7 separate regions of the Homo sapiens genome follow, and regions 1, 2, 4, 5, 6 and 7 are each reported to be linked to region 3. Evidence: microRNA targets listed by miRTarBase, many of them from high-throughput screens and not tested one by one. Region 3 holds a microRNA gene; each other region holds the end of a gene's coding sequence.

Region 1 (4,000 bases), not on the chromosome of region 3:
TTTTTAAGAGGGTTTCACGAGTATTAACAACCTATTTGACCATTTTTAGTAGATTTTCTCCTGAGAACAATCTTTGGATGCACTGATGTCTTATGCTTTCCTAAGTGAAAGGCTCAGTGGAGGATTTTAAGAATCTTCCATTGGCTGGAGGCTGGCAAGCGTACTTTGCAATCTTCTGATTGTAACCATCCTGAGGGTTGAAAAGTATACCTCGAGAGGTGGCCCATTCTATCTCTGTAGGGGAATACTGAGGCTTTATTTCCCTTATGTAGCCCTCCCAAATCAGAGGGGCCTCAAGTGTTTTGGGACCTTGGGGCCTTCTTACTGCTGACTTAGCTCTTTGGTCTGCTAGCCTGTTTCCTTTCGCTATTTCATCTACCCGCTTCTGATGCCCTCTGCAATGTCTGACCACTAATTCTCATGGGAGGAACACTGAGGATAATAGCCTGTTGATGTCTTGATGGTATTTAATGCAAGACCCATTAGCGGTGAGGAAGTGCCTTTCCTTTCAGATGGCAGCATGGGCAAGGAGAACTAGAAAGGTACACTTGGAGTCAGTATAAATGTTAGCTGTCTTTCCTTTGCTTAGTTCAAGTGCTCTTGTGAGAGGGATCAGCTCAACTGATTGAGTGTGTGTGCCTGGTGAGAGAGGCACATTTTCAATGTTATTTAGGGTGACTACTGCATATCCCACTTTTCAGACTCCCTGTCCTACAAAAGAGCTCCCATCCATAAAGTGGGTCCAGTCTGGATTTTCTAGGGGAATTTCTTTGAGATCCTCCCTAGCGGCATAGGTTGTACTACAGTCTGTTCACAATTATGTTCAGTTTCTCCAGTTTCCTCTGGGAGGAAAGTGTCTGGGATCAGGCAAGGTCAGGTTTTTAACTGGACTGCAGATTCCTCTAGCAGCAAAGTCTGATACTTGAGGAGGCAGCTGTCTGTTAGCCAGAGACTCGCTTTAGAGGACAGCAAGCCTGCCACATTATTTATGTGAGGCATAAACAGGTTATTCCCCAGGGTTAACTTGGTGGCCTCTGGGACTAGCAGGGCCACTACTGTAACTGCTCAGAGGCAAGCTGGCCATCCTTTAGCCTCCAAGTCAAGCTCTCTACTTAAGTAACCTACTGGCTGTTGAGCTGGGCCTTGAACTTGAATTAAAACTCCCAGGGTCATTCCTTTCCTTTATGATACATAAAGATTAAAGGACTTCCCTACAGAAAGACTGGGGGCTGGTGCTTTAAGCAAGGCTTGTTTTAACTGATTAATGGCCTTTTGACCTTCAGGTTCCCAGGTCAGGAAGTGAGTTTTAGCCACTTGAATTTCTTTTATAAGGTGATATAAAGGGCAACCTATTTTATCATACCTGGGTATCTATAACCTACAAAAACCTGTAATGCCCAAGCATCCCTCAGCTGCTTGAGGGTTCTGGGGAGAGGAAGGGAGGAAATGGGATTAATCCTCTCCTCGCCTAGTGCTCTTGTTCCCTTCTGACAAGACCAGACCTAGGTACTTTACCAAAGTCTGATAGAGCTGAGCCTTAGATTTTGAAGCCTTATATCCCTTTCCAGCTAGGAAATTAAGGAGAGCCTCAGTGCCGTCTCAAGAAACTTCCTCAGTTGGGGCACAGAGGAGAATGTCATCTACATATTGTAAAACTTTAACCTGAGAATGGAAGAATTCGAAGAGATCTCTTGACAATACTTGCCCAAATAGGTGGGGGCTATCTCTAAATCCCTGAGGCAGTACAGTCCAGGTTAACTGGGTGGTTTGATTGGAGGGGTCTTCAAAGGTAAACAAGTATTGGGAGTCAGGGTATAAAGGTATACAGAAAAAGGCATCCTTTAGGCCCAGAACTGTGAACCATTTAGTTCCCTTGGATATTTGAGTTAGCAAAGTATAGGGACTGGGATCTACTGGATGAATCGTAATCACAGCCTCATGAATAAGGCAGAGGTCCTGAACTAGTCTCCCTTCCCCATTGGATTTTTGCACCCCTAATATTGGGGTGTTTCAAGGGCTACTGCAAGGCCTAAGGAGGCCTTGTGCCTTTAGGTTATCAATGCTGGCGTCTAGCCCTTTTCTACTTTCTGGCTTCAGAGGGTATTGTCTCTGGTTAGGAAAAAAAGTGGGATCCTTGAGGTGGATCCAGACTGGTATAGTGGTTATAGTCCGGCCACTTCTTCCCTGAGTTGCCCAAACCTCTGGGTTAATACTGGTTTCCACTAAGGGGAGGCGGAGTTTGTCCTGGAGCCATAAGGATGGTGGCCCCCATACGTGCTGGAATATCTCTATCTAATAAAGGAGTGGGACTTTCAGGCATGACTAAAAAGGCCTGTGTAAACAGTAGGTCCCTCTGACTGCAACTAATAGGTTGAGAAAAATATCAAGTTAAAGTCTTTCCTGAGATGCCCATCATGGTTGTGCTATGGGAGGAACGAAGGCCTGAATTGGAGAGGAAAACAGAAGCCTGGCTCCAGTGTCCAGAAAGAAGTCTACCTTCCTCCCTTCGAACTCCAGAATCACCTGGTGCTCCCGGGTAGTAACAGCAGTCTGAGCCACTGGAGCCAGGGAGTTGAGCCCCAGGACCCATCAGTCCTGCTGGACCATTTGTGAGACTGGCTCTGGACTCAGTGACCTATGCTTCCCAGGACAGTCTGCCTTCCAGTGGTCCCCATTGTATACTGGACAGGGTTGAGGTGGCTTCTTCTTGCTGCCTGGGCAGTCCCTTTTGAAGTGCCCTAGTTTGCCACATTGGTAGCAACTAGCAGGTGTACCTTGGGGATACTGGGTTTTATACAAAGTGGCCACCAGAGTCTCTGCCTTTTTCTTGTGTTTCCTCTCCTTCCCCTGGGCCTCCTCCTGGTCCCTATTATAAAAGACCGAGGTGGCTACCTTCAGGAGGTTTTGTAAGGTGCTATCTAATCCCATGGCCTGTTTCTCTAGCTTCCTTCTGATATCAGGGGCTGTCTGAGTAATAAACTTGTCTTTCAAAATTAGCTGTCCCTCAATTGAATTATTTATGTGAGGTATAAACATACCTAACAGGAGACAAGGAAGTGTGTTTCACTACAGCCTCTCTCAGCCTTTCCAAAAAGGCTGAGGGATTTTCATCTAGTTTTTGATCTATCATGGAGAGTTTGGGGTAATTAAGAGGCTTGGCTCTGGTCCTCTGTAGGCCCTCTAATAAGCACATTTGAAAATGTTTTCTTTGCCACTCATCTAAGGTACCACTGGGGTCCGAATTATGTTGTTCAAGGGGCACTGCCTCGCTTCCTATTGGGTATGTGAATGCTGGTTGTTTCTCACCTTCTTTCCTTATTGAGTGGCTATAGAAGACATGTTGTTCATCTCTGAATTTTTCTGCTGCCTGCAGGGCTACCTGTTTCTCTGTAGTAGTTAAGAGTTTAAGAGCAACATAACATCACCCCAAGTAAGGTCAAACACCTGAGTTAGGTTTTGGAAAGCCTCTATATATCTATCAGGTCATCAGAGAACTTGCCCAGGTCCCCTCTTATTTGCCCAAGGTCCTGTAATGAAAAGGGAACTTGGACCCTAGTGGCACCAGGTCCATCAGGCATTTACTGTAGGGGTAACAGTAAAGTTGGGGGTTGGGAGGATAGAACTGGAGTTGTTGATGTTGTGGCTGGAGGAGGTTCCCAGATAGGGGAGACAGGAAGGATTGGGGCATCCGGAACTGCATCCGAGTGTTCCCTAGGGGTTTGTTTCTCAGACTTTGTGGAATTATCATCTATGGACTTGCCTGATGTAACTGTTAGGAGAGCAGGGTCAATTCTACAACACTGACAAAGATCTGGGTTGTCTCGCAAGGCAAAGAAGGCTTGCACATAAGGAACCTCGGACCATTTGCCCTCCTGTCTGCAGAAAACATCTAGTTGTTGAATAGTATTAATATTAACACTTCCCTCAGGAGGCCAAGCCTCCCCATCCTGCAGCTGGTAAGACGGCCATGCCCGAGTGCAAAAGAATATGAGGTGCTCTT
Region 2 (4,076 bases), not on the chromosome of region 3:
TGGCTCATTCCTGTAATCCCAGCACTCAGAGGCAAAGGTGGAGGTGGAGGCAAGAGGATTGCTTGAGGCTAGGAGTTCAAGACCAGCCTGGGCAACATAGTGAAATGCCATCTTTACAAAAGAAAGAAAGAAACTATTTGCTCTTGGGCATTTTGCCTCCAATTAGGATGTGCTGCCATCAGGTAGCCTATGGTGATGCCTTGGTTGTGAACCTATAGTGCCAAGGTCAGGTTTTAGACATAGGAAAAGTTAACAGAAAACATGAAATGGCTTTTACGCTCAGTTGACCCATCATTTTATTTAAACTATGAAACACAGGAATAGAGGCCAGCACTCTATAAGACAAAACGTGATGTAGCTTATGATTTATGTAAATGTAGCTACAACATAATGTCAGTCATTCCCATCAGTAGGGCGATTTAGGTTATCCCCTCCCCCATCTCCCCCATTGCATTGCCTCAAGAGAAGCTATCCTGCCAGGCCCTCCTCCAGCGGCCAGGACAGCCACTGGGAGAGGGATGGCATCCCCATCCCCCTCACCCACTAACCCCGCCAGAACAGGCCTCCTCTGACTCAGATCTGGGGCTAGGGAGGAGAGGGGCAGAGGAGAAGCAAAGCCCATTCTGACTTTGTCTTTCTGTCCTTCATTGTTTCAAAAGGCAACAGATTCCGGAAAAAAGCCAGAAGAAGAAGAAGAAAACCAAATGGCGGGGAGACCGGGCCACAGGCACCCACAAACTGCAATGTGTGATCTTGTGACAGGCCTGAGGCCCTGGGCACAGTGACGGTGGCCTGGCCAGCCCTCGGGACCCCTCCCCACCTAACTGCACTGAAACCATTTCTAACCACAACCCTTGGCCCAAGGACTTGGTACAGGAAGGGAGAAGGGCAGGTGGGCAGGGAGCAGACAGGGTCTGGCTTTGCCCAGAGGGCACGGGCTTTCCCACCTCTCAAAGAGACAAGGAAGCCACCTGTAAGCAGAAGCAGCATCCAAGTGCCCCTGGCCCCCCCATGTGTTGATTCAACCCGGTTCCTCCCCCTCTCTCGGTGGGTGTGTTGTTTATTGTAACTACATAGTGTTGGTTTGATGTGGAAGTGTTTATCCACATACAAAGTACAAAACAAGCCATGAACAAGCTTCTTTCCCTTACCCCCCATCCACAATGTCTGAGCTTGGATGTCTTTTATAGATTTTTAAATTATTTTAGTGATTATTATTTTATTAAAGGGGTCTGGGCTCACTGCCTGGTGAAGTTTCAAGTGTTCAGCAGACCTCTCTGGTAACATATCTGGAATATTGTTGTTGTTTTTTAACCGAGTTTTCCCATCAGTGCCAAAACTCAACTCAATCTGAAAGTAGAGTGTCTGAGAGGACAGAAGGTAATGGGAACTGTAGCTGGAGGCCTCAGGCCATGGGTCAAACCTGGGAGGGAAAGAGACCCTACACATGGCCTAGAAATGAGAGAAGAGAGAGGTATTTACCCAGAGGATTTTCCTATGGTTGGGGATGCAAATATTAGAAAACAGATTGTATTTTGCTGAGGGGAGTGGCTGTCATGAGCATGTCAGTTCTAAAAGGGGTTTTCATTATCCTGGAAATGTATAAACTAAAGTAAGCTGATTGGCTTTGCAAACATGTTCATTTGTTTTTCAGACAGTATGGGTTAAGTTCTCTGCCCTCCCCAGGGGTCTGAGGAGGCTCTGGGTTTCTCAGATCTGTCTCTTGCTGCGTTTTCACATCAGCTGTGCTGCTTGGTGCCTCTCTGATACGAATACACTGACACGTCAAAGTAACCTAATGTGGACACCATCCAGAAAACTCCAGTTCATGCTGGATCTTAACCAAAAATGATTCAATACTGTTATCACTAAAACAGCACCAAGACCTGAAGCCATCTTCCCTTGGAGTCAACTGACTACCACCTCTATAAGCCTAGTCAATGAGCAGACCCCTTCCAGTATTTGTAAAAGTAGTACTAGGTTGCCTTTTTGGCAATTTTTATTGACCTGTTGAATCTTGACTATAAAATGATCTGAGAAGTAAGGAAGGCTGGGCTGATGTGTGGCTCTCATATACCTTCTGCAAGGGGGCAGTCTCCCCAGCTCCCTGATGATGCTCACCCCCGCCCCCCCACCTCAGGTGCTGCTGGTGTGAGCCAAAGACTGGAGTTTTTCCAGCTGGGGTGGGAGTGGAGAGACAACAGGAACAACGCTGCACCAAAGAAAAGGTCAGAATAAAAGGCAGCACAGCTGGTGACCTTATTTTCTAGATGTTACAAATCAGGTCACTATGCAAACTAGAATATCCTCAGCAGGTGGCCTGGCCACTCTGGAGAAAGAAACCCAAGGAAAGTGAGCACCCAACTGGATGCCAAGACACCCGGGTTCTGAAAATGTGCTGTGTTCCTACCTCGGCAAGATCACCAGCACTGAGGGGCCCAGCTGGAGAATGATTCTGCTACAAAAGGAGACAGTTGAGACTTTTGCTTGTTGGAAATCAAACTTCTTATTTGTCTAAATTGCCCCTTTTTCTGTTCCTAAAAGGAAGGATAAGAGAGAACATTCCAGGTGAGGCACTTCAAAGTTTCCTTAGACCCTATAGTGTTAAGAGGTATTTTAAACACTAAAAGGACAAAGCTCTTCCCAATCCTTATGCTTCCCTAAGTGGTATCTGCAGCAGTTTGTTGTGTGCAGTTTGATGGCAGCTGCAAACTGGAGGTGAGGCGGAGGAAAGGCAGGTAGGAAGGAGTAAGGATGGAGATGCTCAGAATCAAGAGCATGGCGGAGTAGGAGAAGAAGCCCTGCACACAGGGCAGTGTCCACAGCCAGAAAACTCCTGCTGGGCACCAACCACTACGAGCATACCCCATGCCCACCGTGGAGCTGCAACTCCTCGACAGCACTGAGTTTGATAGTCTCACTGGAAGCAGATCAGCTGATGTAGAACAGAGACCTCGGCCATAAAGGTGAGAAGACATAGGGATTTCAACCACACAGTTGGGACAGAAGGGACAGTGCATCTGTTCATCCATCCTGCACTTGGCCCACGTTGAACTCCATGGTGCCTGAGAGAGACTAGTTAAGGGTTGGTCTTCTGTATCCTCTGCTGTTGAGCCTCTGGTAAGCTTTCATCTCCCATGAACTCATTTCCCCATAAATGAAATGGGTAAATAATGCCCCATTTGTAGAAGTGGGCCCTCATGACTGAGGTAGCTTCCAGATAGGCCAGAGTAGAGTGTAGAGTGTGCCCCGTGACATCCCTCCATCTTCTCCTCCATTATCATCTAGCAGGGTCAGACTGGGAAACCTGGTTGGCCACGCCACACCATGACCGAGGAGCCAACTGGGACTTCTGGCTGTTTGACATCCTCATGTTCCCGTTGGTCTTCCGGAGAATAGTGCTACCCTCACATCCCCTGGAGCACAGCCTTCCTGAAATGCCCTCACCCCATGCCTTTGCCATTGTGTGCTCTCAGATTTCTTCCACTGTTTGACACCCTCCTTAGAGGGCTGCTCTTTTTTTTCCAGAGATAATCCTAGCCATCCTCTCCACTCCCACGGCTGGGGACAATGGCCACTTACTACCTGTGCACTTTGCCACTCGGGACACCTGGATGGTTTCTCTTAGGACTTTGCCCACCTCCTTCTCATGGCACTTGCTGTGGAAAATGCCTGGCTGGCCTCGTGGGGCCTGTCTCACTTTTCCAGGAGACATGACCCACTAACGTGGCAACTTTAACCCAAAGGCCCCTCAGACATGTTACAGCAAATCTGGAGCCACAGACAGGTTCCCTCCATTGGCAGCCCATTGTGTTTGAAATTCCATGTCGGGTTTACTTGGAATGAAAGATACTTGAATTATTGTGCGCCTGTGAGCGCCCAGCTTCTGTTTCATAGTCTTAACAGGTGGCCATTGTCGTGAAACGAGTGATGCCTGAAGATCTCAGTGATGTTTGAACCTTCTGTGTAACTTTTTATTAAGTCTTTGTATCTCTCGACTGATTAATAAAGAAGAGAAACACGTATCTGTCTTAGTTCCTTTTACTCCAGTATTCCTGAAGTTTTGCTGAGAACAT
Region 3 (4,076 bases):
CTCCTGTTCTCCAGCTCTGCCCTTCCTGCCCAATCTGGGCTTCTCTCCCGCTGTGAAGGACAGATACCTGCTGAGTGACACCAATTTGCAGACTTCTGAAGTGTAAATGAGATTTCTAATAGGACTGGCTTCCCACTGGCTTCAGGCAGGGTTAGGAGTAAAGGGAAATTTAAGACTGGAAGTGCAGAAGAAGAGAGCCAGTTTGTAGGATAGGGAGCAGCAGAAGCAGAGGCAGCCAAAGTCTCTGGGTAGAAGTGAAGGGCTGACTTGGTTCAGAGAGGTCAAGTGCCTTGCCAGAGGTCACACAGCTAGCAACCGGAAGAGGTAGAATGAGCTCAGCTAATGGTTGCATTTTTAGCATTCCCTAAATGAGTACGATCCCCAACCCCCAACTTTAGTTTGTAATATGCTTTAGTCTCCTCTGCTGTATGGATGGAGGAGGGTGGGAATATACTTAGGAATAGGGAGGGCATTTGGATTTGTTGCTTGAAAATTAATCTCCACTGAAAGTGTCATCACTGTAACTTGGTGCTCACCTTAGGGCAAGGTACCCCCCAGGCAGAGGGATCCCAGGCAGAAAGGCTGGGAGGCCAGGCAAGGTGGCTGATGCCTATACTCCCAGCACTTTGGGAGACCGAGGTGGGCAGATCCCCTGACGTCACGAGTTCGAGACCAGCCTGACCAACATAGCAAACCCCTCTCTCTACCAAAAATACAAAAAATTAGCTGAGTTGGTGGCATTCACCTGTAATCCCAGCTAGTCGGGAGGCTGAGGCACAAGAATCACTTGAACCCAGGAGGTGGAGGTTGCAGTGAGTCAGGACTGTACCACTGCACTCCAGCCTGGGACAGAGTGAGACTCTGTCTCAAAAATAAATAAATAAATAAATAAATAAATAAATAAATAAATAAATAAAAGGCTGGGAAATGCTTTTTCTGATCACTAATTCTAATTGTATTCCTGCCACAGTGGGGGATGGTCCCCAAGCACTGGGCTTTTTTCCCTTGGCCACACCTCTGGATGTAGCAGCACAGAGGCAGGTACTGGGACCAAGAAATTCCATACACACAAGTCCACTCCCTCAGCTGTGGAGCAGGCACCAGACAAGCTCCGAGGTCAGGTGTGTCCCCCCTGCTGCCAGGTACACTGAACATCCGGGAACCTCGGTCTCCAGTGCATACCTCTCGGTGCCCGCATACACTGTGGCTGTCGGGCCACAGACAATGAGGCCCTGAGCCCCAGGATGTGGAGTCACAAGGTGCCTCCATTATAGGTGCCCCAAAGTGATTGTTGGGGGAATTAGTAATTAAGGAGGGTTTTTCTCCCCCTGCCCTTCAGGTAGTGGTATGGAAGCAGTCCACTGCTCCCTGAAAACAGAGACCCTGCCCCACTTCCCTGCTCACACCATAGTTTGTCCATGTTTCTGGAAGAGTCTGCCGATGGGTGTTTAGGGTGGTGACCTGAGATGTTTTCTAGGAAACACAAAAGATACAAAAAAGAACACGTGGAAGGATAGCCAAAAAGGGGGGCTGCCCCCATTTCCTGCACCCCGCTGCGATGGCTGGCACCATTAGGTAGACTGGGATTTGTTGTTGAGCGCAGTAAGACAACAACAAAATCACTAGTCTTCCAGATGGGGCCAGCCGGTCCACTCTGTATCCAGGCCAGTTCTGCAAGGCGTTCGAGGACCACCCCCCTCCCCTCGCCACCAGGTCAGCGGTCTGGATGCTCCTTCAGGCGAGGCGTTGTCTCCGCTCCTATTACTAAGTTCATCTTTGAACACCTCTCCTCACCTCAGAATTCCCTGGAGAAATTATTTTTTCTTACTTTTCCCTTTTTTCTGGAGTGTTCTACTTTCTATAATGGACACAGTTGTTTTGTTTTGTTTTGGTGAGACAGGGTCTTGCTCTGTCACCCAGGCTGTAGTGCAGTGGTGCAATCACAGCTCACTCCAGCTTCAACCTTCCAGACTCGAGTGTTCAAGTGATTCTTCCACCTCAGCCTCCCTAGTAGCTGAGACTACAGCTAATTTTTTTTTTTTTTTTTTTTTTTTTAGTAAAGACAAGGTCTCAGTATATTGCCCAGGCTGGTCTTGAACTCCTGGGCTCAAGTGATCCTCCTGCCTCAGCCTCTCAAAGTGCTGGGATTATAGACGTGAGCCACTGCACCCAATTTGAGCATATTTCCTTTACAAACAGGGGAATTATTTTTAAAGAGAAGCAGGCAAGTGGCTCATTTCTCTCTTTCCTTTACTAATCATAAAGCATTGAACCACCATGCAGAAGAGAAACTAGAGCTTGGAAATGGTGACCCCTCTCTACTGGTGCCTCCCCCTTCTGGAAGCCTATGGGCATGGCCCATGGTGAAAATTCTTCCTGTGGTTACTGAGCCCTGGAAGCTTCAGAATGAAGTCAGAGTGGTGGTGCTGGGGTAAGCAGAGCAGGAAGAGGAAAAGGGGAAATGGTTGTGGACAGGAGGCTGGTGGAATCCTGGCCCAGTCATCCCCTCCCTGCAGGCACAGCGCTGGGCTCCCTGGTTAATTTCCCTTGCAGTGTGGCACTGGTGGAGGAGAGGCAAAGCCCCTGCTGCCTGGGCCAGCCTCTAATTGCGCTGGCAGGACACATCCGCTCCTTAATTAGCAAAAGCCACAATATCCTGGCGGCTCAGAGAGCATGGCCCTAATTGTATTTCTGCAGCAACTGAAGGATAATTACCCTTCCCTATTGGTGCTGCTTTTAATTCTTTCTCTTTTTAATTGTGAGCACTTCCTCTTTAGCCCACCCTTCCATCCTTGGGTTTATTCTCTCTATCCAGAATGGGGGTGGGGGCTTGCCTGGTGATGGAGACGCTCAGGAGCAGGAGGAGTGGGGGGAGTCATGGAGAAGACTGGCAATACCTAGCTCTGAGTCCCAGCCCCTTCCAGCTGTCAGCCTGAGACAGGGCACATCTCTGCCATGGGTCTGAGAAAAACCAAGAAGTTCTTTTGTGGAAGATGTAAGGGAGAGGTGTTCCTCCCCCAGAGGCTCTTTATGACCCTCTTCAGTCTACCCCGCAGTGAGGTGCTGGCTCTGAAATTCCCAGCTGTAGAAAACTGAGACCTCCTTTCCCCATCCTTTAATCTATCAAGAAACAGAGATGGATGTGTGGTCTTTAATTTCTTTTACAAAAAAAAAAAAAAAATAGCCCCGTGCCTCTTTGCCACTGTTGAGAGGAGGGTTAGTCCTTCAACCTTGAATTGTTTTAGAGACAAGGACCTGAGGGTACCATTAGAGAACAATGCTAACTAAGGTAACCCCTTGGTTAATAGGAGAGCTTAGCACCCTAGGTATTTCTAGGAAAAACAGGCCTTTCTTAGGGACCTGGCAAATAAACTTTGAGAAGTAATAGACAAGCTAAAATGCACCACAAAGAGAGTTTGGAGAGAACCACAGCATCTCTCTGGATGTCAGCTTGCAGGACTGACTGATCTAGCTTACATGAGCAACCCTGGCCCTAAAGCCACCACCCAAACCACTGCCCTGCTAGAAGCTCACTATGAGAGCAGGGACTCTCACTCATTATTCTTCCAAGTGCCTCGCGCACAGCCTGGCCCGTGATAAATGAAACTGGTTGGCAAAGAAGCAGAGTTCAGAGACAGAGTAGGATTGTGAGGTGTGAACAGGGTAAATCCATTTTCATTGGCTTTTTCCTTACAGATCCAATGAAGATGAATTTGAACTGATTGTGGCCCTAGTTTTCAAAATTCTTTAATTCTGGGCTCTATCTGAATTGGGAGAAGATGCAAGCAATAAAAGAGGCTGCTGTAGTCTCAAAGAAATATATTTTGAAAAAATGACCTGCCCTTGAGCCCACCAACTTCCACTCCCCACTTCTAATTTCTTTCCTCTGAATTTAGAGCTGTTCCCTTAGCAACGCTTGTTTCCATGGTTTCCTCCATGACAATGATCCCAAACCCCTCCTCTCTTTTACCTCATGACAGTAATGGATGATGGGGATCCTCAATGTGGCCACTCCATGTTACCATGGTAACAATTAACTGAGCCTTAATTTATCTTTTGTGAAGAGGGCTAGGGAA
Region 4 (4,076 bases), not on the chromosome of region 3:
TGCAGTTTGGACAGGGCTTGAGAGGGACATCACTGCTCAGTGGAGGTTATGTGAAGTCTCCACCGAGATTTAAATGGCTGGGGGCTAGGATGATCTGGAGGTGTTTTTCACTCACATGTCTGGCACTTGGGCTGAGATAACTGAGACGCTGACCACAGTTGGGACTGTCACAGGAGTGCCTGTGGTTGGCTTATACATGTATTTTAAGCTTCATCACAGCATCACAGCATCACATCCTCAAGGTAGTCAAACTTCTTTTTGTTTTTTTTTTGAGACAGTCTCGCTGTGTTGCCCAGGCTGGAGTGCAGTGGTGTGATCTTGACTCATTGCAACCTCTGCCTCTCAGGTTTGGGAGATTCTCCTGCCTCAGCCTCCTGAGTAGCTGAGATTACAGGCACCCAACACCACACCTGGCTACTTTTTTGTATTTTTAGTAGAGATGGGGTTTCACCATGTTGGTTAGGCTGGTCTCGAACTCCCGACCTCAGGTGATCCGCCTGCTTTGGCCTCTCGAAGTGCTGGGATTACAGGTGTAAGCCACAATGCCTGGCCTAATTTTTGTATTTTTAGTAGAGATGGGGTTTCACCATGTTGATCAGGCTGGTCTCAAACTCTAGACCTCAGGTGATCTGCCTGCCTCAGCCTCTCAAAGTGCTGGGATTACAGGCATGAGCCACAGCGCCTGTCCCAAACTTCTTACATAGTGGCTCAAGCTCCAAAGGCAGGTGTTCCTGGCAAACACGGTAGAATCCTCACGGCGTTCTATGACCTCGCCTGCAAAGTCACTGCCGCTCTACTCTAGTGACTGAAACAGTCACAAGTTCATCCAGATTTGAAGGAAGGGGACATAGGTCTCCCATCTCTCTCTTTTTTTTTTTTTTTTGAGACGGAGTCTTGCTCTGTCGCCCAGGCTGGAGTGCAGTGGCATGATCTCGGCTCACTGCAAGTTCTGCCTCCCGGGTTCACACCATTCTCCTGCCTCGGCCTCCCAAGTAGCTGGGACTACAGGCGCCTGCCACCACACCCGGCTATGTTTTTTTTTTTTTTTTTTTTTTGTATTTTTAGTAGAGACGGGGTTTCACCATGTTAACCAGGATGGTCTTGATCTCCTGACCTCATGATCCGCCCACCTCGGCCTCCCAAAGTGCTGGGATTACAGGCATGAGCCACTGCACCCGGCAGGTCTCCCATCTTTTGATGAGGGAAATGCCAATGAATTTACAGCTATGTTTTAAAATTACCATAAACAAGCCTGGTGCAGTGGCTCACACCTGTAATCCCAGTACTTTGGGAGGCTGAGGCAGGTGGATCACTTGAGGTCAGGAGTTAAAGACCAGCCTGGCCAATATGGCGAAACCCCATCTCTACAAAAGAAATAAAAGGCCAGGCGCGGTGGCTAATGCCTGTAATCCCAGCACTTTGGGAAGCCGAGGCAGATGGATCACAAGGTCAGGGATTTGAGACCAGCCTGGCCAATATGGTAAAACCCTGTCTCTACTAAAAATACAAAAATTAGCCAGGCATGGTGGCAGGTACCTGTAGTCCCAGCTACTCGAGAGGCTGAGGCAGAAGAATTGCTTGAACCTGGGAGGCAGAGGTTGTGGTGAGCCGAGATTGTGCTATTGCACTCCAGCCTGGGCTACAGAGCAAGACTCCTTCTCAAAAAAAAAAAAAAAAAAAAGAAAAGAAAAAAGAAAAAAAAAGAAAAAGAAATACAAAAATTAGCTGGGCGTGCTGGCACATGCCTATAGTCTGAGCTACTTGGGAGGCTGAGGCAGGAGGATCACTTGAACCCGGGAGACAGAGGTTGCAGTGAGCTGAGATCGTGCCACTGCACCCCAGCCTGGCCAACACAGCAAGACTCTGTCTCAAATAAATAAATAAATAATGGCCGGGCATGGTGGCTCACGCCTGTAATCCCAGCACTTTGGGAGGCCGAGGCGGGTGGATCACGAGGTCAGGAGATCGAGACCATCCTGGCTAACATGGCGAAACCCTGTCTCTACTAAAAATACAAAAAATTAGCCAGGCGTGGTGGCGGGCACCTGTAGTCCCAGCTACTTGGGAGGCTGAGGCAGGGAGAATGGCATGAACCTGGGAGGCGGAGCTTGCAGTGAGCTGAGATTGCGCCATTGCACTCCAGCCTGGGTGACAGAGCCAGACTCTATCTCAAAAAAATAAATAAATAAATAAATAAATAAAATAAAATTACCATAAACAGTTTTACTGTGATAAGCGTAGTTTTTCTTTGTATTTATTCTGCCTGGCATTTACAATTCTTCTTGAATATGTGGCTTGATGTCTTTGACATCAGTTTTGGAAATTTCTCAGCCATTATCTTTTCAAATACGCTTATATTAATAAATGCTATGTAAGCTGGGCGCGGTGGCTCATGCCTGTAATCCCAGCAATTTGGGAGACCGAGGCAGGTGGATCACTTGACATCAGGAGTTCAAGACCAGCCTGGCCAACATAGTGAAACCCTGTCTCTACTAAAAATACAAAAATTAGCCGGGCATGGTGGCACATGCCTGTAATCCCAGCTACTCGGGAGGCTGAGGCAGGAGAATCGCTTGAACCCAGGAGGCAGAGGTTGCAGTGAGCTGAGATCATGCCACTGCACTCCAGCCTGGGCAACAGAGTGACTCTGTCTCAAAAAATAATAATAATAATAATAATAAATGCTATGTAGTGTCAATGTCAAGGAGACAAAGGAGTGATTCCTCTAGGGTTACCACAGTACGATTTTCCAAGTTCTATTCTTTTTTTTTCTTTTGAAACGGGGTCTCGCTGTGTTACCTGGGCTGGAGTGCAGTGGTGCAATCACGGCTCACTGCACCAATCTTGACCTCCCGGGCTCAAGCAATCGTCCCATCTGAGTCTCGAGTAGCTGGGACTACAGGTGTGTACCATGTTTGGCTAATTTTTGTAGGGATTGGGTTTTGCCATGTTGCCTAAGCTGGTCATGAAATCCTGAGCTCAAGCAATATGCCCCCCTTGACTTCCCAAAGTACTGGGATTACAGGTGTGAGCCACTGTACTCGGCCCCAGGGTCTGCTCTTAGAGAGGAAGTGAGAGGGAAAATAGATCGTAGTAATTCACCCTTGGAAGAGAGTACAGACTTAACTATTCTAGAGACAGGTCTCATCTCCTCCTGTCAAAAGAGTCTTCTCTCACGTTTATAATGAAAAGGTCAGCTGCCTTTCCTCATATTAACACCCCTCTGTATGTTTCTGGCCAAAGAAAATTCTACCCTGCTACTGATGGTTGAACAGCAAACATTAAGTGACCATTCTTTCATAGTGATGGAAAAAGTCACCAGCTTTAAAGCTCACCTGTGACTCAAAACATTAACTAAAAAAATCTAGAAGGAAACACAAATGTTAACTGGTGGGAATGTTTTTCACTTATATGTGTCATATGCCTCTTAATCTTCTACAACAAGCAAGTTACATTAGTAAAACTAACGACAAAGCTTATTCAACAAAGTTACGTAAAATACACCATTAATGACAAAGACATGGCTTTAATGTTATCCAGGAGACATCTGATTCACATAGGGTTACTGAACACTAGAATCTGATCTTGAATCTCTCATGTCAACAACAGACAAATGCATTACAATTTAGGGACAGCTGTTTTCTGGGTACCTCCCAGGTGTTTGCAGAAGAAGGCTAGAATTTGCTTCCAGGCATCTTCCTGGGCCTTAGAATGAGCCCTGGGCTCCCCACCCCATATAACATGTTTGTTCAGTAATCTGTGAAGGGAAGCTGGGCACAGGGGGAAGTAAGGAGGCTCGATGTAATGCCCAGTCCCAGGGTAACAGATGATCTGGGGTTTTTCCTTTCCATGGGCCTGTAACCGTTCAGAGACTGTTTGGGCATACAACTCACTTCTCCAGTTATGGTCATCCTGACCAACAATGAGCAGGATGGGCCCCTGGGCCTTCTCTATTGGAATCATGCTGGGGTTCTTGTACCCTCCTACGAGAGCATTCCTTATATCCACAATGTCCACGAGGCCTGAGAAAGCTACCTTGATTCTCCTCAGGTCATAGCCCAATGGTGGAATGCTAC
Region 5 (4,076 bases), not on the chromosome of region 3:
GTGAGGAGGTGGGGACAGAAAGCCCGGCCCTAGTTCTCCCAGGCGCCTCTCCCTCCACCTTCCCACAGACCCCATTACTTACATTTCGAAAGAAATGCCAGTGGATGCGTTTACTCTGCCATTCGCCCATATCTGTTGTAACTGATCCGGGATCCAGTCCTGAAGGATGTGAGAGGAAGGGACCAGGAAATAGGGAAGAAGAAAATTGGGGAGAGGTTTGGGAAAAAAGGAGGGGATAGGGACTTAGAAGGGTCATGAATAGTGCAGCAGGAGGTAGGGTTGAGGAGGTAAGAGCAAAGAATGAAAGGAAAAAAAAGAGTAAAGAAAGTGGGGGAGTTGGTGGGGATGTGGGTCTGGGTAGAAAAGACGATTCAGATGACTGGCGGCAAGGAGAAGGGAGAGAAAGGGCCTGGAGTCCAGCTGTGAGGCGAAGGTGAAAGGGTCTGGGGAAGGGCCAAGGGCACTGGACTGGTCACCCTTTGATCCTTTGGCCAACCCCTGCCATTCATCTCCACCCAGGCGCGCCCTGGTACCCGATCAACAGCCGCTCTCGGAAGAAGCGCAAGCCCTATTCGAAGTTGCAACTGGCAGAGCTGGAGGGCGAGTTTCTGGTCAACGAGTTCATCACACGCCAGCGCCGGAGGGAACTCTCAGACCGCTTGAATCTTAGTGACCAGCAGGTCAAGATCTGGTTTCAGAACCGGAGAATGAAAAAGAAAAGACTTCTGTTGAGGGAGCAAGCTCTCTCCTTCTTTTAAGGTGCAGGACACGGGCGCCAGCCCCAGACTGAGCCTGTCCCTGGCAGAGAGCAAAAGAGGGCGCCGCCTAGAACACAGTCCCCACTTAGAACGCCAGGCGTCTCTGGCAGGCCCTCCCTGGATATCCTCTTGTCTGTTTTGTTCGTGGTTCCCTCCCATACACACCCAAAACACCCTGCCAGGTCCCAGAGAGAAGGGAAGAAACCTAGCCAGGGAGAGCAGAAGCCGGCAGCTGCCTGCGGTTGGCAGGGGCAGGAAGGCTGAGGTGCTGCGGGCTGGTTTATTTGAGGCAGGACTGGGGCACTGCACCTCCGCTGAGGATCTGGAGAAGCAGCGGCCCAGATGTCCCCTTCCTCTACTTCCCTTCCATGGTCTTAATTCTCTTTGCCGTCAGGAGCAAAGAGCAGGGCCAGTGGAACCAAGGCACCTCAACCTCACAGTTCCTGGGGTTAGAAGAGGCTGGGAAGAGAGAGGAGGGTGGAGGGTCAGCGGAGAGAGCTGAGGGAGTCAGGTGTCTCTGGTAGGGCTGGAGGAAGTGGGGAACCAAGGAGGAAGTGTGGTTTGTGAGAAAATGATTAGCAAGAACCAGAGTCTGCTTGGGTCTGGGTCCCCCAGGACACCCAGTGGGCAGAAGCTTGGGCATTTGGCTGGCCGGGCTGTGGACAAGGACTATCAGCCTCATGTTCCCTCTAGGACCAGAACAGTGTCCTGGTCCCCAGCCCTCTCCTGATCCCGCTGCCCGCACCGGGCGAATGTCTGTTCATAGGTGTGCTGCCATCCACTCCTCCGTTGCCTGCGGTGGCTGCAGGCCTGATGCAGCAAGCAGGGACCTGAGAGCCCAGGGGACACAGCCTCAGGTTCAGTAGCCACCCCAGAGGTCCCCAGCTGGCTCTCCAGAAAGAAAGTGCAAGAGGCTGTAGATGGGGCTACGGAGCACCACACTGATTGGCCGGGAGAATTTCTGACAGCCACAGCCGAGGCCTCTGATTCTCCCTTCCCCGCTGGCGTTCACGGTCACTGCCTCACGGGCCGGCCAGAGGGTGGACCAGCGTAATTTACGAGGCGGGAGGAGAATTCACCCTTAAAGGGGCTACCAGCCATTGAGGTCCCACTCAGCCCCAGTTTCCCAGGCCCGTGAGAATGAAGGAGGGGGGCGCTCCAGCCCCCCACCCAACTCCCTTCTCTCTTCCTCGCCCGCCCCCCAACATTGCCCTTTGTCTTCAGAAGGGCTGCCTCCGCCTCCTGGCCTGCAAACCTCCACAGCCTAGCACATGGACCAGAGCAGAGGGAGGGGCACAGCCCTAGAACCCATTGGAGGTCTGAGAATGGCTTCTCTGAGTGGGAAGGACTTTCATCCAGACTCCTTCAGACCCCAGCCCCAGCCCAGTAGACGCTGGGCTGGCTTGGAAGAGAGGAGCAGTGAGAGAACCATCAACCTTTCTGTACTTCATTTTTATCCTTCTCCCCAAGAGTCCCCCAGCCTCCCATCTGCTGTCCGGCCCTTTCCAGGAGCAAGAGGGGTGAGAAGCAGGGCACTGATGGGAGTTAACTGCAGCCTGGACAGTGTGAAACTGGCCTGCTGGCTTGGAGTGTTTCCCATATGGGGAGAGTCTCCCCTAACAAACTCTCCAAAGGCAATCCACCGAGCTTTTTACTCTCCCACCAGCACACAGCTTCTGTACAGGCAGAGGCAAAGGCAAACACATACACACAGCTGAGCCCAGCACAGCACTGGGCCCACCCCACTCTCCCTAGTGCACTCGCAAGCAGGCAGCCTCATAATCCCCACATGGCCCAGCAGAATGGAGATAAAATCACATGCCTCCATCCCCCGCTGGGTATCTGACACCTGACAATTCCCCATCCACACATACTTGCTTCACCCATGTACAAGTTCCCCCAAATTACCACCATTCCAGCTGTCTGCAGTCTCCTGTGGTCTTCCCCTGGGCATGAAGCACTCCCCACCTTGACTGGTCACCCACTGTACCCCCTTTATGCAGCCCTTCCTGTGACCTCTGGGCTCTAGGGTGCTGGATTTGAGCTCTACCACTCCAGACTAACCTGATTCCCAATCTAATAATGAAGAGGGACCAGAACACTCTAAAAGGAGTGAGGGGACAAAGATATGCAATATTCTCTTTCCATTTGCTTTAAACTTGACTTCTGTGAGGTTCTCTGTCAATCTGTGTCTTGTTCTCTGTGTCTGTCGCTGGTACCTAGTGTAGTCCCTGTGGATAGTTGCCCTTCCCCTAGCTGCCTCCCCAGCTCTCTGTAGTGTAATTCTCCTATTCCAACGTCTGTCTTTAGCACGTTTTCCCTTTATATAGTCCTTGTACAGAGTTGCTTCATCATATTAATATTGATAATAATAATAATTAAAACATGAATTATGATTATGTGATTTTTTGAAAACAAAAGTTCTACCCCAAAATAATGGGAGTCCCAGCCTCTTAGCTGTTCTCCACTTTATTTTCTCCAGCTCAGGTGAATAATAAAAATAATAAATGTGTAATAATAATGAAGGAAGAGTGGTTGCAGGGGCAACAAAAATACATAAGCAACCAAGATCTGTTGATGAGCTACCATCTCCAGTCCCAAGCAATTATAGCAGAGAGAAAATTGGGGGGTGGCAGACTTGGGGGAGGAGAGGGAGCTTTGAGAAGTCATGGGGCCATAAAAATAATGTGGACAGCCTAAAGGAGGTTGAAACCAGCTTCAGAAAAGGAGGTCTGTGCTTCAGGAACTTGACAAATAGAAGCCAGGATAGGGGCACTGGTGAGCTGAGCTGGATACTGGGGCAGTAAGAGTAACCCATAATCCCGGGGCTGAGATGGAGGGGGGTTGGTGGGCCTAGAGCTTCAACCGTGTGGTCTTAATCCTATGGCTTCACTCTGAGATGACGCTTGTGTATTGCAAGATGTTGAGAAGGGGCTAAAGACCCCTTGGAACTGGCAAAATAGGCTCCACCTTTTGAAGCCAGCGACTCCCTCTAGCCCATGCCAGAGGAAAGCCCAGGCCCAGGCCAGTGGTAGAGTCCAGATGTGCCCATGAACCCTCTGCACCTCCACCTACCCCTTCCTTTGGTAAGACATGCCCTCTCTCTTTCTTACCCTTTTGCCTCTTCCCTCCCCTCTCTCCAGTTACCTTTTCTAACTGTAAAGCTCCTATCAAAGGAGTCTCCTCCAAATTCCTCTTCCACCCTCCTGTACCAGAATCCTAGGGGCCCCCACCAAGTCCAGACTCTGAGCCACACCTCCTGCCCTGAAATCTCTCTTTCCTTCCCCTTTTTTATTCCTATAATTAGATAAACTAGCG
Region 6 (4,066 bases), not on the chromosome of region 3:
ACTCCTGGGTACAAGCAGTCCTCCCTCGTGGGCCTCCCAAAGTGCTGGGATTACAGGCGTGGGCTCCCGTGACCAGCCTGGAACGTGCTGATGAGCCTCTTTTTCTCCTGAAACCCCGGTGGGAACAGATGGTGGATGCTTCCAAAAGCATCGAAGCTGTCCATGAGGACATCCGCGTGCTCTCTGAGGACGCCATCCGCACTGCCACAGAGAAGCCGCTGGGGGAGCTATGGAAGTGACCCAAGGCTGCCCACTGGAGACGCCTCTCCCTGCAGTCCCCCGAGAGGTGGGAGACTCGCGGAAGGCCCCGTCCCCAGCAGAGTCCAGACCCCACAACTTCAGGAGCTCTTTCCCGGCAGCAGAGATCTGCAGGCTGCCTCTTCTGCCCCGGAGCTGGGGTGCACTGGGGACCCCCGTGGTGGGGACCTTGGCAGTGTGGACATGAGCAGAGCGATGGAGCAGTCTCCTGCCCTCTCCCCTGTCCTGATGGCACTCTGTTGTATTTTCTTACTGAAGTTCAGTGATAACTCTGAGCAGTTTCATTGTGATCACTGTAAATGGTAATCAGTTGGAATTCTCCTAAATGTCTTCCAGACACTAGTAAAAAACGACCTGAAAATTGTTTGTGGAACGCTTCACTTTTCTTAGACTGAGGACGGAGCTGGCTTTGAATGGGAACCTCCATCCCAGGAGAGAAGAGCCTTCATTGGGCCCAGTAGGGCCTTCCTGGACCCTGGTTCCTGCCTAGTTGAGGGAGTCCCACTGTGGGTCTGAACAGTTGCAGCCATGCCCTGGGCTCGCTGGGTCCAGCCAGGCTATATCCGAGTGTCATCACAGCTTACGTCCTGAACTCACCTAAGTTAACTCTGCTATTTTCATTGCAACCCTGGAGCTTAACTTCTCATCCTATCCTTTATTTTTTATTTTTTTGGAAACAGGGTCTCACTGTCGCCCAGGCTGGAGTGCAGTGGCACGATCGTGGCTCACTGCAGCCTTGACCTCCTGGGCTCAGGTGATCCTCCTACTTCAGCCTCCTGAGTAGCTAGGCCTACAGGCCTTCACTGTGCCTGGGTAATTTTTTTGTGGAGACAGGATTTCGCTATGTTGCCAGCCAGGCTTGTCTTAAACTCCTGGGCTCAAGTGATCTACCTGCCTTGGCCTCCCCAAAGTGCTGGGAGTACAGGCATGAGCCACCATGCCGAGCCCATTGCATCCCCTTTTAAGTGACACTTAGAAGGAATGATTTGACACTCCTGGCAGAATCTGTCCCACAGAGCACACTCCGCATAGACAGCAGCATACAGTGTGCTGGAGTAGAAGGCAGGCAGGGTCCCCCATCTGTGGGGGCAGCAGCTGTGGGTCTCAGCACCCTTCTGTGGCCAAGAGACAAACCCAGGCAAAACAAAAGGATTTCACTCTTGGGTAAGCATTGCCAGGGGCTGTGGGATGGGCCTGGGTGAGGAACCTTCAGATGAGACTTTCCTGGACTATCCAGGTGGGCCCAGTGTCATCACAGGGGCCTTTTTTTGTTGTCTTAAGACTGGGTCTCACTCTGTCATCCAGGCTGGAGTGCAGTGGTGCAATCTTGACTCACTGCAGCCTCTCTTTCCTGGGCTCAAGTGATCCACCTTAGCCTCCCAAAGTGCTGGGATTACAGGCTGGCGCCACCATGCCTGGCCCATCACGGGTCCGCATAACAGGGAGGCAGGCGGTCCGAGTCAGGAAATGAGATGCCAACAGCAAAAGCTGGAGAGATGCCATGTTGCTGGCTGTGTGGTTGGAGGAAAGAGCCATGAGCCAAGCAGTTTCTGGCATCCAGAAGCTAGAAAGGCACAGCAACGTTCTCCCCTAGAGCCCACAGCACGATATGGCTGTCTGCCCTCCGGGTCTGGAAGAGGCTGTGCTGTTCCAGGCACTGAATGTGATCATCTTTTAGAGCAGCCACAAGAAGCGAATACGAGCATCGGAGAGGCCACAAGTCCTCAGCCACCTCACCGGGGACCCAGCAGGGCCCCCTCCGATCTGGCTTTGGGCCCTTCACACCTATACCAGGGCTGCCCACAGGGATGCACTGGCCAGAGTGAGCAATGTCCTCACCAAGCCCCCTGCTGTGCCCCAGGCATGGCCTCCCACAGGCCAGGACAGTCACTGCGCACTTGGGGAAGGCTTTGCTATGATTCAAATCGAGGCAAACCCTGCAACTCCAGGCACTTCCTGTGACTTCCTCCTGCTGAAGATGGGAACCGCCATTTTACTTTCCTAAAATCCTATTTTCCTTGCACTTTTTCCTTCTAGGGTTGTATGAGGTGGCTGATGCCACGGCTGGTAGAGAGCCAGGCTGCAGGCAGGACAGGCCCCCTGCCAGGGCTGGGGACACACCTGCTCAGGGCCCCACAGCCCGCCACGCAGGCAGCCACATCCTTTACGTGTGAACGGGCTGAAACATTCACTTATTTTTTTTCTGGAACTCACATTCAATTAGAACTTAAGGAAAAAATAGACACAAGGTTTGTTTTCTACTGAAACTTATTATTTGCCATTAAGAATTGCAAACTATACTACTAAGAATGAACAACATTCTCTTCATTAAGCCTTTTTCAAAACACACGAGACAAAGCTCCCCTTTGGTCAAGGTGTCCCACACATTACCACTGCAGCTCCCAGCACAGCGGCGCACCATGAACTCGGACGTGGAGCCCAAGGAATGGAGATCGCACCAGCCTTCCCTGCTTCCCCACCCCAACTACACCCAAGGGAGAAAGGATACGAGGAAATACACTATGTCTTCAATGCTTGGGGGGCTGGGGGTGTCCTCTGCTACCAGGTGGGCCGGTCAGTGCCGACTGTCCGGCGCGCGTCCTCGGGGATCTCTGGCTCCCCGACCTACACAAGCAGCAGCAGCAGCAGCGAGTCCTGCCAACGCCGCAGTAGCTGCTCATGAGAAAAGTGCCCACGCTCCCCAAGCCCTCCTGTTTACATTTCCTAGTGGGGCAAAGATACTTTCCCAGGACAGGCAGCAGAGCAGCGGGGCAGAGTGCACTCTGGGACCCGGGACAGCAGGTTACACAGGGTCAGGCGGTGGTGGGTGCTGGAATCGGGGCTGAGGTTCTGGAAATGCCACCAGGTGATGCCACCCTGTGGTGTCTGCCCACCACACACCACAAGACTCAAGTGGTTTTCCCCTTTTGGCCCTAAACCACCTAACACCTCAGCGGCATGGGAGGGCAATTCTCAGCAAGGCAAGGACATGGGGAAGGCTCCTGGGAGAGGCACGCCGTCCACCCTCAAGCCTGGCTGTCACAGGTGGAGGCCCCGCCCCCCCCCCGTCACCACACCTGGGGAAGCTGCCACAGAATGCCACAGCACTGGAAAGGGACACTCTGAGGGCAGGCTCCAGCAGCAGCTCCAGGACAGCCAGCCGCCCTTCTGCCCAGGCCGCCCACGCTGTGTCCTGTGCACGCCATCTTCAGGTTTCCCACACACCCACTTCCTGAATACTTTTCTCCCCAAAGCAAGGAGGAACCTCGCCTTCGTTCCTCCAACCTCATCTCCCACTGAGGTAGCCCTTGGTAAGCCAGGCTGGGCAGAGAGGACACAGCGGTGGGCGCGCCCCCCTCGAGAGCAGCCCAGTCCTTGGGCGTGGGGCCGCAGTGTGGCTGCCGCTCCTCTCACGCCAGCCTGCACAGGTCTTCTGAGACTCTGACTCAGGGAGCGCCCAGAAATTCATGTCTGTGTCTGACAACTTCAAACAGGACTTTAATTCCAAACCAACCACAGAACCGGCGCCTGGGAGCAAGTGGGACTGAGGCCCAGGTGCTAACACGGGGCTGGCAGTGTCGAGAGAACACTCTGGAAGCTCCTAACAGACGGCTCCGCGTGCGGATGCACAGGCCCTGACGGGCACTCTGAGCTGGGCAGTCTGACACCAAGCAGTAAGGCCTCCCGGGCAGCGCAGCCTCAGTCCACGAGCACAGCGGGTGGCCCTCTGGGGGGAGGCAGCACGGGGCGCAGCCCTCGGCAGGCGAGCGGGCGGGATGGATGAAACGCAGCGGCACCAGGAGCCCCA
Region 7 (4,076 bases), not on the chromosome of region 3:
TTTTTTTTAAGTTACTGAGAGAGGGAGTTTTTTTTTTTTTTTTTTAAAGCAATCACAGTAAGATTTATTTCTAAAAATTAATATTAATTGATTATAAAGAAATGTTGGAAATGTAAACAGCAAAAATACCGTATTATTTAAAAGCCATTACCAGAGTTGAAGTGTCAGTTTGATATTGAATATAGTCTGGATTAGGAAATTAGTGAGAGAGAGAAAATATCTTAGAAGTTATGTAAACCACAAAACAAAGCAGTACCTTATATTACTAGCCTCTTTTTGTTGCAGGATCTCTCCCTCTAAATTACAGCAGTTCATTCAGCAAGTAGGGAAGGTAATTCTTGTTAATCCTCTATTCTGTTGGCGATTCTTCCACGTACTTAGTAGAGTTAAGGCAAAAACTTACCGAATTGGAAGTATGTATCAGAAGGAATTCTTAATTATTCACTTTGAAATAAAAGAATTTTCCTTATAGGTTCCAAGTAGTAGACTGTACTATAATACTGCTCTTCTGAAATAAATTGAATATTTTTACCTTGCCAAAACTATCATTGAAGGCTGGAATTTTAGGTACAGTATTTTTCTGTGAATGATTTTATGTTGTTAAATATTCTTTTAAAAATTCATATCTGTAATTGTTACTGTAGAAAACCAAATACAAAGAATTCTAAAACCTTTGTACCGTCTCTGTGTATTTGAGATTACTTAAAATATCTTTTTTTCTGTTCCAAGTTCTACTCAGTGAATGTGGATTACAGCAAGCTGAAGAAGGAACGTCCAGATTTCTAAATGAAATGTTTCACTATAACGCTGCTTTAGAATGAAGGTCTTCCAGAAGCCACATCCGCACAATTTTCCACTTAACCAGGAAATATTTCTCCTCTAAATGCATGAAATCATGTTGGAGATCTCTATTGTAATCTCTATTGGAGATTACAATGATTAAATCAATAAATAACTGAAACTTGATATGTGTCACTTTTTTATGCTGAAAGTATGCTCTGAACTTTAGAGTATAGGAAATTAACTATTAGAATTTAAAGAATTTCTTGAATTTCTGTAGTTTGAAAATACGACTTTAAGCTGCTTTAGTAAAACACTTCCATTTTGTGTATAGACTGTTGGTAACTTCACTAGAGCATACATAACAACTGGAACTGGAAATTATACAAAAGTAAATTGGGAAGGATACTCCAGCATCTGACACTGGCAAAATGGAAACCTTTGAGTTTCTCTTACTGGCTGTTGAAGTGTGTGCAGTTTTTAACAATGGTTTTTACTTGGCATCTCTTTGTTGTGATTTTCAAGGTTATAAGTTGCTTTGGTCCTAGGATTGAAGTTGAAATCTGAGTTTATCAGTGCTAACCATGGTGCTAGTAGTCAAGAGATCTTGAGAATTTTGGCTGCTGAGTCTTGGTGCAGGGTGCAGGTTTTCTTTTCTTTTTTCTTTTTTTTTTTTTTGAGATAGTCTCTGTCACCCAGGCTGGAGTGCAGTGGTACAAACATGGATCACTGCAGCCTCTACCTCCCGGGCTTAAGTGATCCTCCTGCCTCAGCCCCTAAGTAGCCGGGACTACAGGTATGTGCCACCATGCCCAGTTAATTTTTGTAATTTTTTTTAGAGACAGGGTTTTGCCATGTTGCCCAGGCTGGTCTCAAACTCTTGAGCTCAAGCGATCCATTCTCCTCAGCCTCCCAGGGTGCTGGGATTACAGGCGTGAGCCATTGCGCTTAGCCATGGTGCAGGTTTTCAAAGGCCAGGAAGTATATTCATAATTTTAAGATGGGGAATATAGCAAGTTTTCACATAGGTGTGTGTAAGTCATCACATCATAGAAACTTGAGGAATTCAGTGACATTAATTTTGGATTTTCATACGTAAGTATACAATTAAATGTTTACAGGGTAGTAGAAGCACATTTTAAATGTCAGGAACTGAACTAAGTATTTGAATTACGTGGATTATCTCAAAAATTTTGAAATTGTTAAACGAGTTGAATTACTTGAATTCATTCTGTTAGTCAAATGGTGGATATTTACACCCATGTAGTTTTGAATTTAGAGTGTGTAGAGTGTTTTCAGTTACCAGACTCCATGCTTTTACCTCCTATGTGTCAGGTATAATTTGAACCTCTAAGAACAGGGTTTCTCAACCTTGCCACTGTTGACTATTTCTGAAAGACAGTTTGGTTTAGCAGACCATCCCATGCGCTTTAGCTTGTTTAGTAGCTAACTTGGGCTCTGCCACTACAGACAAAAAGCACTCTTTCCCTCCAATTCCCACAGGCTATGAGAAGAATGGAGACATTACCAAATGTCCATTGGTGGGCAAAATTGCTTCATTCCTACCTCTGTTGAGAATTACTCTAGATCCTTTGGCACAAATTACCTCAAAGTTTAAAATTGTGTAAACAAACAGTGTGTCATGTAATTGAAAAACATTAAGCAACTCCAAATAAATGCTACATTAAGAAATTAGTAATAACGTTTTCTAGAATTGAGGATCATTTTATGCATCCTTAAAAATTCTTTGAGTAGTATCTTTCTACTTTGTGTCTATCCTTGGACTTTGCAATGTAAGAATACATATGAAGTTTGGCATGAAATAGGATATGTCTTAATGAAGAAACTATTACTGCTATTTAAGAAACTTCAATGGCAATCTAAAGAAATTGTCATTTACAAATGCATCAGATACCAATGCTGCCACGAAAGATAACACACTTTTTTTCTTTGAATGTTTAGAATTGTGCTTGTGCTTTTTTTTTTTTTTTTTTTTTTTTTTTTGAGACTGAGTCTTGTTCTGTCACCCAGGCTGGAGTGCCGTGGCGTGATCTTGGCTCACTGCTCACTGCAACCTCTGCCTCCTGAGTTCAAGCTATTCTGCCTCAGCCTCCTGAATAGCTGGGATTACAGGTGCCCACCACAATGCCTGGCTAATTTTTGTATTTTTGGTAGACAGTTTCGCCATGTTGGCCAGGCTGGTCTCAAACTGCCGACCACAGGCGATCCGCCTGCCTTGGCCTCTCCAAGTGTTGGGATTACAGGCGAGAGTCACTACTCCTGGCCCTACTATGCTTCATTCAGAAAACAGACTGCTGCCTTTGTTTCTCATGTTAATGAAGTCTGCAGGCAAAGCTGCATTTAAATACAGATATCCTTGGGTAGTATTTACATGTATTTAAAAATTTGCAGTTTTCATAATTTATATATGCTTCCCAGTAGGTACTTGTCTTACTCTGTTGCTATAAATGAATACCTGAAACTGCGTAATTTATACATTAAAAAAAGGGTTATTTTGCTCGTGATTCTGTTGGCTGGAAGATTGGACATCTGGTGAAAGCCTCAGGCTGCTTCCACTCATGATAGAAGGCGAAGGGTAGCTGGTGTGTGCAGAGATCACATAGACAAGAAGCAAGAGAGAAGGGGGAAGTGGTAGGTTCTTTTTAATGACCAGCTCTTTTGGGAGCAAATAGAGTGAGAACTCACTCATTACTGAGAGGACTACATGAAACCATTCATGAGGAATCTGTTTTATTACCCAAACACCTCCCATTAAGCACCACCTCCAACATTAGGGATCAAATTTCTTTTTCCTTTTTTTTTAATCCGCTTTTAGACACTGAGTCCTGCTATGTTGCCCAGGCTGTAGTGCAGTGGCTATTCAAAGGCACAAACAGTGCACTGCAGCCTCCTGGCCTCAAGTAATCCTCCCCGTTGAGCCTTCCTAGTAGCTGGGATTACAGACATGCCTCTGTGCCCAGTGGGGATTAAATTTCATGAGGTTTGCGGGGGACATACATTCAAACTAGAGCAGTTCCCCCCCAAAAAAGCTAAAAATAATTATACTAAATTTTACTTCTTTCAAGTTTATTACCCAACTCTGGTCAGATTTTATCCTCACCACTCCACTAAAAACGCTTCTGTTAAGGTTTTATCAGTGACCTCTGTTTGTGAATTCAAGTTGATCATCAGTATCACTTTGACCTAACAGTTGATACAGCTCCTTGAAACACTCTTCCTGGGTCCCTAGAACACCATACTGTTTTTGTTAACCTACATCACTGGCTTTTCTAGTC

What was found. Region 3 holds the annotated microRNA hsa-miR-7-5p (UGGAAGACUAGUGAUUUUGUUGUU, at 1,610-1,633, opposite strand). A microRNA usually pairs through its seed, bases 2 to 8, with sites in the 3' UTR of a target mRNA and lowers its output. Matches are read on the target gene's strand: a 7mer-m8 pairs with bases 2 to 8, a 7mer-A1 pairs with bases 2 to 7 and ends in A, and an 8mer does both.
Region 1: miRTarBase lists NCR3LG1 as a target of hsa-miR-7-5p. Seed matches in the 3' UTR shown: 7mer-A1 at 1,670-1,676.
Region 2: the mRNA of MRAS is a reported target of hsa-miR-7-5p. Seed matches in the 3' UTR shown: 7mer-m8 at 3,384-3,390 and 7mer-A1 at 3,480-3,486.
Region 4: miRTarBase lists ACOT4 as a target of hsa-miR-7-5p. The part of its 3' UTR that is shown has no 7-base or 8-base seed match.
Region 5: miRTarBase lists HOXC12 as a target of hsa-miR-7-5p. Seed matches in the 3' UTR shown: 7mer-m8 at 2,697-2,703.
Region 6: miRTarBase lists DTYMK as a target of hsa-miR-7-5p. Seed matches in the 3' UTR shown: 8mer at 586-593.
Region 7: the mRNA of COXFA4 is a reported target of hsa-miR-7-5p. Seed matches in the 3' UTR shown: 8mer at 824-831.

The regions. Positions count from the first base shown.
Region 1 is chr11:17,372,091-17,376,090 of GRCh38, reverse strand. NCR3LG1 (natural killer cell cytotoxicity receptor 3 ligand 1) reads right to left here. Exons shown (of 5, transcript NM_001202439.3): 5 at 1-4,000. The coding sequence ends at 3,579. Among named protein-coding and RNA genes, the nearest start is that of KCNJ11, 15 kb to the left of the region's middle.
Region 2 is chr3:138,401,511-138,405,586 of GRCh38, forward strand. It overlaps MRAS (muscle RAS oncogene homolog), which reads left to right. Exons shown (of 6, transcript NM_001085049.3): 6 at 660-4,023. The coding sequence ends at 759. Among named protein-coding and RNA genes, the nearest start is that of ESYT3, 31 kb to the right of the region's middle.
Region 3 is chr15:88,609,413-88,613,488 of GRCh38, reverse strand. MIR7-2 (microRNA 7-2) reads right to left here and starts at 1,664; the gene lies at 1,555-1,664. MIR3529 (microRNA 3529) reads left to right here and starts at 1,565; the gene lies at 1,565-1,642. It also overlaps a transcript of AEN not described here. RefSeq lists an enhancer at 1-455.
Region 4 is chr14:73,595,197-73,599,272 of GRCh38, reverse strand. It overlaps ACOT4 (acyl-CoA thioesterase 4), which reads right to left. Exons shown (of 3, transcript NM_152331.4): 3 at 3,507-4,076. The coding sequence ends at 3,619. It also overlaps a transcript of HEATR4 not described here. Among named protein-coding and RNA genes, the nearest start is that of ACOT4, 5.4 kb to the right of the region's middle.
Region 5 is chr12:53,955,809-53,959,884 of GRCh38, forward strand. HOXC12 (homeobox C12) reads left to right here. Exons shown (of 2, transcript NM_173860.3): 2 at 520-3,148. The coding sequence ends at 758. It overlaps LOC105369775 (a long non-coding RNA gene), which reads right to left and starts at 619. Exons shown (of 3, transcript XR_944977.2): 1 at 534-619; 2 at 83-159.
Region 6 is chr2:241,672,300-241,676,365 of GRCh38, reverse strand. It overlaps DTYMK (deoxythymidylate kinase), which reads left to right. Exons shown (of 5, transcript NM_012145.4): 5 at 129-619. The coding sequence ends at 239. ATG4B (autophagy related 4B cysteine peptidase) reads right to left here. Exons shown (of 13, transcript NM_013325.5): 13 at 2,509-4,066. Among named protein-coding and RNA genes, the nearest start is that of DTYMK, 12 kb to the left of the region's middle.
Region 7 is chr7:10,930,346-10,934,421 of GRCh38, reverse strand. COXFA4 (cytochrome c oxidase associated subunit FA4) reads left to right here. Exons shown (of 4, transcript NM_002489.4): 4 at 730-2,479. The coding sequence ends at 786. Among named protein-coding and RNA genes, the nearest start is that of COXFA4, 7.8 kb to the left of the region's middle.